Linked DNA regions of Homo sapiens: region 2 is linked to region 1. Evidence: fine-mapped expression QTL. Tissue or cell type: cerebral cortex. Region 1 holds a variant in brackets; the other region holds the start of a gene. All regions are shown on one strand. Distances are between the middles of the regions.

What was found. PIP is the estimated chance that this variant, and not a neighbour inherited with it, causes the effect.
Region 2: it holds the start of LASP1NB, and the variant in region 1 is fine-mapped to the expression of LASP1NB in cerebral cortex (GTEx, PIP 0.98).

The regions. Positions count from the first base shown.
Region 1 is chr17:39,077,026-39,085,126 of GRCh38, forward strand. It overlaps PLXDC1 (plexin domain containing 1), which reads right to left. Exons shown (of 14, transcript NM_020405.5): 9 at 6,434-6,515; 10 at 2,079-2,139; 11 at 888-1,023. It also overlaps the pseudogene RDM1P5. Among named protein-coding and RNA genes, the nearest start is that of LINC02079, 54 kb to the left of the region's middle. RefSeq lists enhancers at 3,753-3,812, 3,993-4,062, 6,443-6,943. The variant G/C (reference allele first, on the strand shown) is at 3,554.
Region 2 is chr17:38,922,201-38,930,301 of GRCh38, forward strand. LASP1NB (LASP1 neighbor) reads left to right here and starts at 3,414. Exons shown (of 2, transcript NM_001414697.1): 1 at 3,414-3,691; 2 at 4,217-7,181. The coding sequence starts at 3,494. The coding sequence ends at 3,571. RefSeq lists enhancers at 1-409, 7,493-8,038, 8,039-8,101.

The DNA.
Region 1 (8,101 bases):
CCCGGCCAATTTTTATATTTTTAGTGGAGACGGGGTTTCACCATGTTGGTCAGGCTGGTCTCAAACCCCTGACCTCAAGTGGTCTGCTCACCTCAGCCTCCCGAAGTGCTGGGATTACAGGTGTGAGCCACTGTGCCTGGCCGAGATGCAGGGTATTGAAAAAGGATAAGGGAGAGGAATGTCTCAGACATAGCTACAGAATCCTGGAGGGGGCATGGGAGAAAGGGAAGAGATTTGAGGCCTAGGACCGGAGGAGCCTGCACAAGGCTTCCTGGGACACCGCCTGGTGCATTCACGGGGATGGACCTCTGGCAGCTTCAACCAAGACCCCCAGGCCTCCAGGTAGCAGGGAAGCCCCTAGATTGCAAGACCTGAATAGTCAGGGTGGATGGACAGCTGAGGTGGAATTCCCCATCCATCACTCCAGGGCCTGAAAGTGAGAAGTCAGGTGATCATACAGAAAAACAAGGCAGCCTTTCTCTCACGCCTGAGTGTATGGACTGAGTTCATACCTGCTACAGGGATGAGCCTTTTCAGGTTCTGTGAGGACTGCTATTAAGATTAGCTGAGATAAGGTATATAAAATACCTGGCACTGGCCTGGGCTATTAATTTTTCCCCTCTTCACAGTGAATTGTCTGTAGCCCTGATGTGGGCCAGTACAGTGGTTAGAGCCCAGGAGTAGAGTTCAAGTTCTAAATCTGGCTCTGCTTCTCACCAGCAAGTGACCTAAACTGTCTGAACTTCAGGCCCCCTTAGCTATAAAAGGATGGGGCAGTTCCCATCCCATGAGATCATCCCTGTCAGGGACAGAGAGGGGGCCCCAGAGGGGTGGGTAGCTCTCCTTCCTGGCCTCCTCTCTGCTCCCCTCCTGGGCTCAGAACTTACCTTCTGTGGTGAGGCTGTCGATGAAGAGGGAGGAGGAGGTAGTGGTGAGGTCTCCATCATAGGGGCTGAAGGAAGTGTCAGGGGAGGCTGAGTCGTGGTCCTCATCCTGGAAGTCCTCGCACATCCTGCCCTCTGCCTGCAGGAGAGAGCCAGTGCTGTGTCTTGAATGCATTTACACCTTTCCCTTCATCCTGAAAGCATCTTCTCTTACAGGGCAATTTATCTGTCAGCTGCTTCAAATCCTTCCTCAAGGAAGGGGCTGAGATGCCAATCTTAAATAAATAGAGCAAATCTGAACGGTCACCAACAGCTAACTTCAAAAGTAGGCGGCTGGACAGGGTTTTTTTAAAGCCCAGACTCAGACTAATAAATAGACTGTGGTAAGTGTATGGCCACAGGGTCTGGAGAGTTGATATTTAAATGCTGGGCCCGTCACCTTCTAGCAGCGAGATGCAGGCCAATTCATTAAACTTCTCTGAGCCCCAGTTTTCCCCTGTGATCGATCAATGGGGGCAATGGCCCCCAGCTTTTGGTTCAGGTTAAATAAGAGCGAGGGTAGGGCAACTCACAGTGACATGCTTGGCACATGCAGCATGCTTGCTTTGCAAGAAGATATAAAGGGAGGGGGCAAAAAAGAGGGCACAGATGAATAGACCCATCTATGTTAGTCTATGGTGTGAGAATAGGATGCTTTCCACCTAGAATCAGTGTTGAGTGTACTGGAAAATTCTTGCAGTGAGAAGGAACCTGGATGGGATTCTAAAGAGGAGATGCCTGGAACCACCCTTCTCACTCCCAGAATGACTGCCTTCCTCAAAAGCCAGAGGACCAGAGGCTTAGCAGGTGCATCATTAAGGTCAGCAGGTGCACAGTCTCCCAGAGGAGCCAGCAGTGGCTGAGGCCATGCCCAACATCCCCTCTGCATGCACCAAAAGAATTCCTTGAGAGCTGCCCACTTAAGGTCAAGGCATCAGAATGCTCGTCTCAGAGACCCACAGAGCCCTCTGAAACCTTCCAAAGTGGGTCTGATTGGCTCAAGGCAGTCTGGAAAACAAATCTTAGATGGAAGGGAGGATATTGCCAAGAGCTAATGCCACCTTGAGAAGAGTTTCCAGGGGCAGGCCCTACTGGCTGCCCTCCTGTTCCCCACCACCTGGCACAGGAGTTGCAGCAGATACTTATGCTTCTCACCTCCTGTGCACAGCCATAGTCCATCCACTCCTGGCGATAGCGGTCAAAGCCACTGGAGCATCTGCAGGAGGACCAAAAGGACAGAGTTATGATGGGATTGACAAAGAAGCCTTCCCCTTTCACTGTTCAGTAACAGCTCTCTGCTGATAGTGAGAAGAGGAGCCAAGGTCCCCAGGCTGAGGTAGTCAGGCACTCCCATTCCCTCTACTTCCCCGGAAGATGAAGGTATTTGTGGCATCCCTGCCTTCCTTCCCACCCAGCTCCCCAGGACCAAGGCCACATCTGCCCATGTGAGTAGGTGTAGGGGCTAGCAGGACTGCATGAGCTCCAGTGATCCTCAAGGTCGCCTTGACTCTGAGCTGCCGTGACACTGCTGAGAATCCAGGCAATTCACATACGTGTTTTCATCCTGGTTGTTGAGGGACCTAAACTTGGGAAAGAGAGTAGGGCTAAAGGTAGGCCTCAGCAGACTTAGTCAACACCTCCCCATGTGATCATTCAAGGGCATTTCTGACGGTCCTGCCAGAGAGGCTGGGAGACAACTGGCTGACAAGGGTCTCCGGAGAGGGCATTGGACAGCTCAGCTGGGCTGGAAGACACCAAGCGCCCCTGTAGGGAAAGGATGGGGGCATGACGATGCACCAGAGAATGTTCTCCATGCATCATTCCCAACTTTTCGTTCTTTACTCTTTGGTGCTAGGGGAACCCACCAAGCCCTACTCAAGCCCAGGGATGTCTGCATGGGAAGAATAACATCATGAACCACCAGTGCCAAGAAGGAATTCTCAGCAGGTTAACTGCACCAGCACCCACTGAGGTTTGGTGAGGCCAAGGGCCAAGGCTTGCCAGGAGCTGTCAGTCTTTCCTTCTGCAGATGCCTCTGGGCTCTGAGCTGCTCCTCCTGCAGCAGGGATGGCTGAACTGAGCCAGCCACACTCTCCTTCTGTCAGGTCCTCTATGCCCACTACTTTGGGGGATGGAGGATTAGGAAGGCTATTGGAGGCTGAGAACTAAAGTTTCTTTTAGGGCTGGGTGTGGTGGCTCATGCCTGTAATCCCAGCGTTTTGAGAGGCTGAGGCAGGAGGATTGCTTGAGCCCAGGAATTTAAGGCTATAGTGAGCTATGATGGCACCACTGCACTCCAGCCTGGGTGACAGAGCAAGACCCTGTCTCTTAAAAAAAAAAAATAGTTTCTTTTAGACTGTGCTAACTGATTCTTTCAAAGATTGAGCCTTTGGTATGGGTTTATGACCCCCATTTCTGGAGCTAATCCTGGAATTAACATTACCCTTAGACTCCAGAGTGGGTCATGGCGGGGCGGGGGCAGGCAGGCATCTGCCGTGAGAGACGAAATTGTTTAAATCCATTCCAGCCCAAGAGCAAGGAGAAAAGCTCTGGGAGGCTGTGAAAGGCAAAGTGGGTGGAGGGGAGGGGAGCAGAGAACCATGCAGGGACTGACTGCAGCTGTTGGCAGA[G/C]AGACCATGTCAGCTGGCCCTGCCCTCCGGGTTTTTAGGGACCTAGGTTCAGCTCTCAGTTGCAGCTGAGGCTCCAGAGAGCTTGTAAGAAGGGACAATGTGCAGGAGTGAGCCCAGGCCCATGGGGCGCCTGGGGATGGGATGATTTTCAGCCTGCACCAGCCATGCTCCCCCAGGTGGAGTTTCTCTGTGCTCCTCTTTGCTGACACAACTCCTGCAGATGCACACAGTCAGAGGCCTTGCCCTTCCCCCAGCCTGACCAACCTCCTAATGTTGAGGAGGGCTCAACCCTCATTTAACTCATAGTCTCTGAATTTGGGCATATGCTTTAAATGGGGGTTGTGTTGATGGGAGAGTTTGGCTGTCATCTGACCCATTTTGCAGTTCTCATGGCTCAGCGCTTGTGAAAGCTGAGTCATGTGGTGGCAGCCAGCCCCAGGATCCCAGGGCTCATCTGAGGCCATCTCTCCATTGCTTAGACCATGGTTCTCAAATTTGAAAGTACACAAGAGGGACCACTTCAAAAATCAGATTTCTGGGATCCTGGTTCCAGAGGATCATATTCAGTGGGATGGGGCCCAGGAATCTGCATTTTACAAGCCCTCCAGGTATAAGGAGAGCCTCACAGTCTGCAGACTATTCTGCAACGCTCTGCTCCAGGAAGAACCAACCTGGGGTCTATCCTACATATTCTTTCTGAGGCTCTGTGAGTCTCATGCGAAGGATGCTGAATGCTTTGTAAAAATGCTTCTTGCGGCTGGGCGTGGTGGCTCACGCCTGTAATCCCAGTACTTTGGGAGGCCGAGGCGGGCGGATCATGAGGTCAGGAGATCGAGACTGTCCTGGCTAACACGGTGAAACCTCATCTCTACTAAAAAAAAAAAAAAAAATACAAAAAATTAGCCAGGCGTGGTTGCAGGCGCCTGTAGTCCCAGCTACTCGGGAGGCTTAGGCAGGAGAATGGCCAGAACCCGGGAGGCGGAGCTTGCAGTGAACCGAGATCGCGCCACTGCACTCCAGCCTGGGTGACAGAGCGAGACTCCGTCTCAAAAAAAAAAAAAATGCTTCTTGATATCTTGATAGCCTGGGTGCAGTGGCTCACACCTGTAATCCCAGCATTTTGGGAGGCCGAGGAGGGCAGATCACTTGAACCCAGGAGTTCAAGACCAGCTTGGCCAACAAAGTGAGACCCCATCTCTACAAAATATTAGAAAAATGGCCGGGTGTGGTGGTGTGCACCTGTGGTTTCAACTACAGGGGGGACTGAGGCAGGAGGATTGCTTGAGCCAGGAGGTTGAGGCCACAGTGAGCTGTGATTGCACCACTGCACCCCAGCCTGGATGACAGAGCAAGACCCTGTCTCAAAACAAAACAAAAACTGCTTGAGGAGTTTAAATAACAGTGTGTTTGTTCCCACATCTTCCTGAATCACATGACCCCAGCCCATTTTACAGGGTAAACAATCTGAGGCCCCAAGAGAGTGAATAAAAGCACAGCTGGTGGGAAGAACACCTGGGAGACCTGATGGGCACACCCCATCCCCTCTGGGCCCAGAGCTGTGTCCTGTGTGCTAGGCAGGCTGCCTATAAAGGCGAGAACTTCTACATTTGCAGCAGGATATTGGAAAGGAGCAAAGGAATCCTGGAATTAATGTTACTCTTAGACTCCAGAGTGGGCCATGGTGCAGAGGCAAAGGAAATCACTGGGGCCGGGGCAGTGGCTCACGCCTTTGGGAAGGCCGAGATAGATGGATTACCTGAGGTCAAGAGTTTGAGACAAGCCTGGCCAAACTCTTGGTTTGGTGAAACCCCATCTCTACTAGAAAAATACAAAAAAATTAGCTGGGTGTGGTGGTGTGTGCCTGTAATCCTAGCTACTCAAGAGGCTGAGGCAGGAGAATCGCTTGAACTCAGGAGGTAAAGGTTGCAGTGAGCCAAGATCACACCATTGTACTCCAGCCTGGGCAACAAGAGCAAAACTCTCTCAAAAAAAAAAAAAGCACTGGAAAGGAGCATTGGAAAGGAGCAGCACGACAGCTGCACAGGAACTCAGAGACTATAATTTAGCAATTTTCAAGATTGCCTTAAAAGCCCTTGGAGTTCATAGGACTTCCCACTCTCATGAGAACTCTAGTCCCCAAGGAAATCTTTTTCTTCCCCCTCCTCCTGTCATTTATTTATCTTGGACAGGGAACAGAGCTTGAATGCTGAGTCTAATCTGTGAGGAAATGATTTCAGAACAAGGAGTGGAAGAGGAGATGGATTTAAGAACATTATCACTGAAACTGAATCTCACCCAGAATTTTCTGAGCTTCTAAAAGCAAGCAAACACAGCTTTTTAGCTCTCCCAACTTTCCATGGATGCCTGTAGTCCACACCCCTGGTCTTCAGAAAAATCCCTTGCAGCCCAAGAAAGATCTTGAGGTGGTGTTTTGGGGTCATGGGTCTTTGGACCAGACTTTGTCTCTGAACTGGCAGTTCTCACACTTGTTTGCAGATGAAGCATGATGTTAAAATGCAGCTTCCTGGGTTCTCTCCCAGAGATCCTGATACAGAGGGTCTGGGATGGGTCCCAGGAATCCAGTGTGTTTAACTGGAGCCCAGGGTCTAATGCCCACAGCTGTGGAACACTCCGAGAAGCCCTGTTCCAGGATGAACCCTCTCCTCCTGGGTGTGAGGAGGGAGCCTGAGTAGCTGGAATCCCTAAATGGTCTTCCAGAAGCCCCCAGGCCATGTTCTTGTCCCAAGAGTCAGAGTGGTACTGGCCAGAGATACTCTCATGTTGGCTGACTGTGGGCAGTGAGGCCAGGACGGGGCCATGCCACCCTCTTCCCCTCCACAGTCGGCCAGTGGGAGTCAGCAGGTAACCCTGGGCACAAACCTCTGGAGGACATGGCACCAGCTGCAGTTGAAGGTCAGGTCTGAGGACATGCAGGCGTCACAGCTCCTATGCTGCAGGCAGGCTGCAAGAGAGAAGGCAGTGGCCGCTCAGCACCGAGCCTCTCCTTGGGCTCCAAAGGGTGCAACTCTGAATTCCTGGTATTTACAGAACTATGGAGCCCCTGACTTTGAGGAGACCTTTAAGGTCATTAATGCCACCTCCCTTGGTCCAGTCTAGCCCCAATTCCTAACTTCTTTTTTTAAGGGATGAGGTCTCGCTGTGTTGCCCAGGTTGGTGTGTGATGACCTGATCATGGCTCACTATAGCCTCGAACTTCTGGGTTCAAGTGATCCTCCTGCCTCAGCCTCCCCACCATCTCTTCCTCCCTCCCTACCTACCTTCCTTTTTTCCTTCTTCTGTCCCTCACTCCCTTGTTCCCTGCCTCCCTCGCTTCCTCCCTCCCTAGCTTCCTTCCTTCTCACTAGAAGGTCAGGCCCTAAACTGGGTGCTGGGGATTCAGCAGTGAGACCTAGTCCCTGCCTTCTTAGGGCTTAGACTCATATGGGGACACAGACACTAAACAGATAATCAAAAATCACTACAGAATTAGAACTGTCACGAGGTCTATGACGGCAAATCACAAGGTGCTGTAAGTGTGTACAAAGGAATCTCACCTAGTCGGAGACATTATACTTTCAGGTGTGTATCCCACAGTCAAAGGGTTGAAAGGGATTTTTTAAAGGTCAGAGCATACAAAGTAGCAGGTATGTAGGATGAACAAGGCTAGAATCTACTGTATAACATGAGGACTGTAGGTAATAAAATTGTACTGTATGTGGAGTTCATGCTAAATGAGTAGATTTTAGCTGCTCTTGCCACAAGAACAAAAAATCTAAGGGAACTGTGAGATGATGGATATGTTAACTGCTTCATCATGGTAACCATCTCACTGTCTATATGCATCCCATAGCATCATGCTGTATACCTGAAATATGTACAATAAAAGTTATTGTTTTAAAAGATGCTCTGGTTGCCCCCAGTGCTTGTTGGGGGCACTCACTGCCCACTCCTGATGTTCGGTCCATGGGGAGAAAACAGCTCTCCTGGGAGAGAAGAAGTCAAGGCAGAAAGGTCCCATGTGCAGAGCCGAGAGGGGAACGGCCCAGACGTGATCCCAGCAGCAGCCAGAACTGCTACCAGGCTGCACAGAGTGAAGGGGCTGGAATTAGTACGAATGAAGAGGGAGCGACAGCTGGGGCCCAGCCTGGGCAGGACAGAGCCAGAGAACAGAGAGATTAGTGGGACCAGGTTGCTGGAGGGCGCGTGAACCCTTCTGGCACAGGCCAGGCACAGGAGCAGCAGGGCAGGGGGCGCAGTAGGCACGGGGGCTGGATTTAAGAGCTGTTCACTTGCAATCCAGTGCTACTCACTTGAATGAACCAGATGACCTCTGAGCGGCAAGTAGCTGTCACAAAGCCCGTATATTTGATTGCAAAGAGAGACAGGCACTCACCCAGAACAACTGTGTGCAGAAGGGCTTATCTTATAAGCAACAGAACAGAACACCTTGATAGCCACAAGAAGTGACAACTAACAACAGAAAAATGACCACTCATTTGATCAACATTGCATGTGTTTCTTCCTGTGTGAATTCTCATGTGATCCATT
Region 2 (8,101 bases), 150 kb before region 1:
GTGATGAGTCTAATTCATCTCTAAATCCCGGGTACCTGCCCAGGAGCGGTGCGGAGCTGTTGAATTAATGAATGAGCTTGGCTGGGGAGCAGTTCTAGCACTCTGCCGCTGCCAGGCAGAGAGCAGGAGCTCCACGCATTTGAGGAACGAGATGACAGGGCATTCCACAGTGGGACGGGACCTGGATAAAGCTGTCTGTAAGGTGGCCTGGCAACCCAAAGCACTATTCACAGTGCCTTCTGAATGTAATCTTTAATACACATCCCCTTTCTTCCTTCTTCCTCACAACCCTGTGAGAGAAGTAACTACTTATAGAGGGGCTCACTGAAACCCAGAAAGGCAAAGCAGATTGGTGGCAGTCACAGCTAGTGGCAGAGTGGGGCCTGAGACCCCCATGTGATGCTCACAGTCTGGTGCTGTGCCACCCGGCCATGGCAGGCCGCGTGCCTGTGTCTGTGGCAGCTCTTAGATGTGTGTCTCCTGGGCTCCATGTTTTGCTCCAGGTGCCCAGGGTCTGTGACTGGCCAGAAGGCCAGGCGGCCTCCCCTCTTGCTCATTGGGCTTGGGAAGAGGACAGTGGTAGAGAGGGGAATCTGGCCCTGCTCAGTGCTGCCAATCAGCCTCAGGTCCAGCTGCTTGAGGGGCATTTCTCTCTTGGGGCTCAGAACTAAGGAATTCTCCAGCCTCAGAATCACAGCAGGGTGGAGAGGAGGAGGGCTCTCCTGAGCTGAGCATTTGTAATCTGGAGAATGACATGGCCAGAGTCAGCTGAGCTGGGGCAATGTGGGGAGCATCCAAGGCTGCCCTGGGTGGTATAATTAGAGACAGCACTGACACCTGCTCCCCTCCAGGGGTGCAGGCAGCCCAATACTTTCCCAATAGAAGGGAATTAGTTGGCAAAGCTTGCCTCATGTCGGCCTGCCCCACTCCCCGGGAGGCTTCATTCACCTTCAGATCTATTTGATGGAACAGTGCTTTGGGGGACATTGCTGCCAAGTCTCCACTCCCTGCTCACAGAAAGCTCTGCCTCCTGGAAATGGGCCAATGGGAGGAGTTTCTGGATTTCCTTCTGGCAGTGGCCTAAGTTCCTGAGGTCTTGCATTATGAGGGGGTTACCAATATATCTTAACCCCAGGCCTTTAAAAAAAATATTATTTGGGGTGGGGGCCAAGGAGACTAGGCCTCAGAGACGTCCTAGGGAATGATTTAATTTAATAGAAAATAATTGAGGCTTATAAAAAGGCACAAAAATCCTGGCTAACACAGTGAAACCCCGTCTATACTAAAAATACAAAAAATAAGCTGGGCGCGGTGGCGGGTGCCTGTAGTCCCAGCTACTCGGGAGGCTGAGGCAGGAGAATGGCGTGAACCCGGGAGGCAGAGCTTGCACTGAGCTGAGATCGTGCCACTGCACTCCAGCCTGGGTGACAGAGCAAGACTCCGTCTAAGAATAAATAAATAAATAAATAAATAAATAAATAAATAAATAAATAAAAAGAATAAAATAATTCTCTTTTCCCCCTCAGAAGAAACCACTTGAATTTTTTAAATTTCAGGGATACCCCTGGGGAATTCTTCAGTGTCCTCTCTGTGTACAACACTATGCTGAGCTTTTGGAAGAGGATACCAAAGAAAACAAAACTAGGCCGGGTGCGGTGGTTCACACCTGCAATCCCAGCACTTTGGGAGGCTGAGGTGGGAGGATCGCTTGAGTCCAGGAGTTTGAGACCAGCCTGGGCAAAATGGCAAGACCCCGTCTCTATAAAAAAAGAAAGAAGGAAAACAAAACAGTGGGTAATGACTGCAAAGAGACGAAGGAGTGGGTGGAGGAGGGGTCTCTGGTGCTCGTCCTGTAGGTGGATCGATGTGAAAGCAGTCCACTGCAAGCTGAGCAGTGCACGTGGGGTGTAGGGGCCTTCCGGACCAACAGGGGGAGCAGTGTGGCGCAAGAGGAAGAATATGGACTTTGGTGTCAGCATGCCTAGTTTTGAATCCTGGTCTCTGACATTTTTAATTAATTAATTAATTATTTTGAGACGGAGTTTCACTCTTGTTGCCCAGGCTGGAGTGCAATGGCACAATCTCAGCTCACTGCAACCTCCACCTCCCAGGTTCAAGCGATTCTCCTGCCTCAGCCTCCTGAGTAGCTGGGATTACAGGCATGTGCCACCATGCCCAGCTAATTTTGTATTTTTAGTAGAGCTGGAGTTTCTCCATGTTGGTCAGGCTGGTCTTGAACTCCTGACCTCAGGTGATTCACCTACCTCAGCCTCCCAAAGTGTTGGGATTACAGGCATGAGCCACCACACCCAGCCTTTTACTTTTTATTTTATTTATTAATTTATTTATTTTTGAGACGGAGTCTCGCTCTGTCACCCAGGCTGGAGTGCAATGGCACGGTCTCAGCTCACTGCGACCTCTGCCTGCCGGGTTCAAGCAATTCTTTAGCCTCAGCCTCTTGAATAGCTGGGATAACAGGCACCTGCCACCACGCCCGGCTAATTTTTATTTTTATTTTTTTTTTGAGACAGAATCTTGCTCTGTAGCCCAGGCTGGGGTGCAGTGGCGCGATCTCAGCTCTGCCTCCCGGGTTCAAGCAATTCTCTGCCTCAGCCTCCCAAGTAGCTGGGATTACAGGCATGCACCACCAAGCCTGGCTAACTTTTGTATTTTTAGTAGAGACAGGGTTTCACCATCTTGGCCAGGCTGGTCTTGAACTCCTGACCTTGTGATCCACCTGCCTCGGCCTCCCAAAGTGCTGGGATTATAGGCATGAGCCACTGCGCCCGGCTGGTCTCTGACACATCTAAGCTATGAACCATTAGGGTAAGTTTCTGACCATCTCTGAGCCCCATCTATGAAAGACTCATAGGGAGGTTGAAATTGCACCACATGTACGATATCTGGCCCAGTGTAGGAAATGTATAAATGTTAGCTTCATCCCTCAGGGAAGCCCACTGAGATCCACACGAAACTTTTGTCTGTGTCTCCCCATAATGTGACCTTTAGAAGTTGCCAATGGCCCACCCAATACCCAACCATGATTTTTCTGAGATAATCTGCCCGAGGTGTGTGAGAGGAAACGCGAAGAAGGCAGTCAGGAGGATTCACTCTTGGGGGAGCTGGGTAGGATCCTATCTCCTCCTACATCCAGAGCATGCAGGCTCCATTTAGATACAAAGGGGTGGGATTGGGTTCCTGGGGAGAAATTGAGCCCCTTTGATTCTGCGGTTCTGTGGGTCTAAATCTGGCATCTCCTTGGCTATCCACCCCCAGGCTTTGTGATTGGTTGGCTGTGGTTGGTGGGGGGGCAGGAAGCTGCTGGTGGAGCTGCAGCATCCTTCAGTCTCAGGCCCCTGGGAGGGGGAGGGGAAAGAACCAGGGCTGAGCTGTGGAGTGAAGGGGAGCCATTTCTCTCCACCGACTGCAACCTCCGTGCTCACAGCTCACGGTTCACCAGAATCCAGGGGCTTGGTCGGCCTAGGAATCCACAATGCTGGATATTTTCATCCTGATGTTCTTTGCCATCATAGGCCTGGTCATTCTGTCCTACATTATCTATCTGCTCTAGTGGCCTGGAGCTGCGGCCGGAGCCTGCTGGAGAACAGCTCAGAAGGAAGGATGGAGATGAATGGCCGAGTGCCCTGCTTGCTGACGCACCGGTGGATTTTTGCTTCTGCTGTTATCTCGGGTATTGATTCCAAAAAAAAAAGAAAAGAAAAAAAGAAAGAGTTTGCTTTCCTATTTTTTTTCTTAGACCACTCTGAAAAGAATAAGAAATGCCAGCTTCTTTCTTTGGGACCTAATTTAAAATAAGACTTTAAAAATTACAAATAAAATCCACAATGTAAACGATTTTTAGGCAGAACGGGTTGGGAATGATGGATGTGGTGGGGAGGGACTATTATTTCCTAATTTCTTCTTCAAGTTAGGTGCTCAAACTCAAGTTGTCTATTTTCTTCTGGTAATTAAAGGTAAAACACATCTTTGCATGTCAGCATACTTGCAATATAGTTGTTTACAACTATGCTTGTATAATTGCATTACTTAATGATTGACTCATTCTTATTTGAGGGTGAGACGGCAAATAAATTTTACTTGGGGTGGGGTTTTCGGGGAGATGTCCAACTGTGGGATATGGTGGAGAGGAGGGAGGAACTCCTGGTACTTTGCAGTTGTCCCCATCTGAGACTTTTTATTTCTGGGTTTCTTACAGCTCCTGGTCTCTCCAGTCCAACAAGAGGCCTCTCATCCACAGAAGCAGTCCTACTGCCCAGCAGACCTCTTTCAGAGCCTTCCAGACATGGCTGACCCCTGGCAAGCAAGGGGCTTTTTGAGCTGAGAGGCACTTGGCTGGGACTTCAGGAATTCATGGACAGGGCTGGCAGATACTGCATATGTTTGAGCTGTAGATGGGATTGAGAACAGAAAGTTGAAATGGAGACTTATTAAAGTTACCGTGGAGAACTGCTCAAAAATTCATTTTGAATTAAGGAAACTTAAATTCATTTTAAGTTTCCTTAGATCTAAATGCAACTGCACATTACACTCAAATATGTTCCTTCCTTCTCACACACAGGACTCCCTTGTGAAACTCAAGGGGAAGTTCAAGTTGTCCATCTTCATCTATGAAGTAGTCACTTTATCACTGTCTTTACAGATTGCACAGTCTGGGGTTTTGTGGTTTCTCTTGTCTCACTCTCCAGCCAGGAAGAACTTGTCATTTGAGTTTTTAAAATGTATCATTTCTTCCCCACCTCAAACCACTTGTATCCCAGTTTCTCATTTAAAGGGAGAAATGGTTATATAGTCCTCTCTTTGCACCTGATTGAATTATAAATGATAGAAACAAGATGGCTATACTTATTTAGGAAAAATCTCTTACCCCAAAATGAGTGTGTGTGTGTGTGTGTGTGTGCGTGTGTGTGTGTGTGTGTGTTTTAATCAAAGATCTTTTCTGGAAAAAACTTTCCACATAGTTCTCTGACCCATTAGAGTTGAAGAAACTATGTATTTTGGGATTCAGAGTAGAATTGGCCTGCAAATCTGGGGTGTTTATTCCTTTTACAAGTCTATCATAATTGTTCTACATTTAATTTTCCTTTCTTGCTTAAAAGTAAACAAGGAGAGTCAGGAGTGGTGGCTCATGCCTGTAATCCCAGCACTCTGGGAGGCCGAGGCGGATGGATCACCTGAGGTCAGGAGTTGGAGACCAGCCTGGCCAACACGGTGAAACCCCGTCTCTACTAAAAATACAAAAATTAGTCAGGCACAGTAGTGCGCGCCTGTAGTCCCAGCTACCCGGGAGGCTGAGGCCGAAGAATTGCTTGAACCCGGGAGGCAGAGGTTGTAGTGAGCCGACATCATGTCACTGCACTCCAGCCTGGGAGACATAGCGAGATTCCGTCTCAAATAAAATAAAATAAATAAATAAATAAACAAGGAGAAAGATTAGTTTTTAGTAATAACATTGTGTCCAATTTCCATGTTTTAAAACAAAAATTGAGGCATTATATGTCACAACTGAAATGGAAAAGTTGTGTTTAAAAATTATGGACAAGGCCGGGCACGGTGGCTCACGCCTGGAATCCCAGCACTTTGGGAGGCTCAGGCAGGAGGATCACTTGAGGTCGGGAGTTTGAGACCAGTCTGACCAACGTGGTGAAACCCTGTCTCTACTAAAAATACAAAAATTAGCTGGTGTGGTGGCAGGTGCCTGTAATCCCAGCTACTCAGGAGGCTGAGGCAGGAGAATCGCTTGAACCTGGGAGGCAGAGGTTGCAGTGAGCCGAGATCACACCTCTGCACTCCAGCCTAGGTGACACAGCAAGACCCCATCTCAAAAAAAAATAATAATAAAAACATAAAAATTATGGACAAGAAAAAACACTATTCTGGAAGCTTTGTTTTGGCAACAAATTATATGACCTGACCTTTCATAAGTCATTTAAACTTTAGGGCTAGGCCAGGTGCTATGGCGCATGCCTATAATCCCAGCATTTAGGGAAGTAGAAGCAGGAGGATAGCTTGAGGCCAAGAATTCCAGACCAGCCCAGGCAATATAGCGAGACCCCCGTCTCCACAAAAATAAAAAATAAAATAAAAATAAATAAATACATAAACTTTAGGTCCTCTGTTTATTCTGTCAAATGAAAGTGTTAGGCCAAGGTCGCATTATCTCTTTGGAAACTACATCGAGAACAGAATTCCCATGGAACGAACTCTTAATAGTTCACTGGTAGTCCCCCTTTTCTGAATATTCTTCCCAACATGACACTTTATAACAAAAATTTAACTGCAAAACTCTTTTTTTTTCACCAACAGCCAGATTTTGATGAGAAAATGGCCATATTTATTTACTCCAAATATATATTATGTCTGTGATAATTTGCCTAAACTGTTTAAGGAATATTAACAAGTATGATACTGCATCGTGGTATGTAGCAAAAAGATAGGTAATCTGACATACATGGATGCAAGCAGCATGGCTGTGAACCTGGATATATTTAGAAATGATCTTCAGTGGAGTCCTTGATGTGACATTTTCCACTAAAACATTCTTCTAACTCTGGTATATCTTAGTGTTTCGAACTATAATTTCCGTCTTCAAGCCAAGACAGCAGCTCTACATCCTTACCTAGGTAATTCAGGCATGCGCCAGTATTTTGGAGGGGTCCAAATTAGAGTTAGTTATGATGGTATAGATCTTTAAAGTATAGTCTAACCAAGCTTGCTCTGGTCTTTTGTGACATCAAGGCTTCTCAGTCTGTATTCACATAAAGTTGAAACAACTAATCAATTCAGTGAAAAAAAATCAGCAGATTTCACTCATACACTGGTGATATATACCACTGGTATTGGGTACAATGTAAGGAGAGAGGATTACCCATCTCTTCAGTTACTTGTAAAATATGATTTTAAAAAAATAAATCAATACATTTTGGAAAAATTATATGACTTTGTGCTTATATTTATGCAACAATATGCTAGCTTATAACAGGGTTTTACTGTGTTATTTTGATAGTTGTTTAAATTTTACATTTAAACTATTTGTATTTTGGCATCCCAAAACATAATAAAACACTGCAAAAAGTTACCTCTGTAATATAAGATTTTGTATAAATTTTATAAATTTGTGTCATAGGGTAATTTTGTCCAATAAAATGTCAATGAGATAAAAACCACTCTGAAGAATTATAAATTACTTAGAAAAAAATCAAGTGACAATGCTAAGAATCATTACACTAATACCTGCTTTCTTGATGAAAACAGGGGGTTTGTGGGGAAGAATGATGTATTTTATTTATTTTATTTTTTGGTTTTTGAGACAGAGTTTCGCTCTTGTCACCCAGGCTGGAGTGCAATGGCACAATCTTGGCTCACTGCAACCTCCGCCTCCTGGGTTCAAGCGATTCTCCTGCCTCAGCCTTCCGAGTGGCTGGGAGCACAGGTGTGCATCCCCATGCCTGGCTAATTTTTGTATTTTTTAAAGTAGAGACAGGTTTTCATCATGTTGGCCAGGTTGGTTTGGAACTCCTGACCTCAGGCTATCTGCCTGCCTCAGCCTCCCAAAGTGCTGGGATTACAGGTGTGAGCCACCGTGCCTGGCCAAAATATCATTTTGATTTTAAATTACTCAAAAATAATGGGACTTTTCCTTAGGCATCGAAGTACAACTGAAGTGGAAAATTGTCTTTGTAAATTACATGCTTTGGCTTTATCAAACTATAGATATTTTCAAAGCCTAGAGTGGCCTCTTCTTTTTTTTTTGTTTTCTTTTATTATTATTATTATTTTTTTTTTTATTTTTTATTTTTTATTTTTTATTGATCATTCTTGGGTGTTTCTCGCAGAGGGGGATTTGGCAGGGTCATAGGACAATAGTGGAGGGAAGGTCAGCAGATAAACAAGTGAACAAAGGTCTCTGGTTTTCCTAGGCAGAGGACCCTGCGGCCTTCCGCAGTGTTTGTGTCCCTGGGTACTTGAGATTAGGGAGTGGTGATGACTCTTAACGAGCATGCTGCCTTCAAGCATCTGTTTAACAAAGCACATCTTGCACCGCCCTTAATCCATTCAACCCTGAGTGGACACAGCACATGTT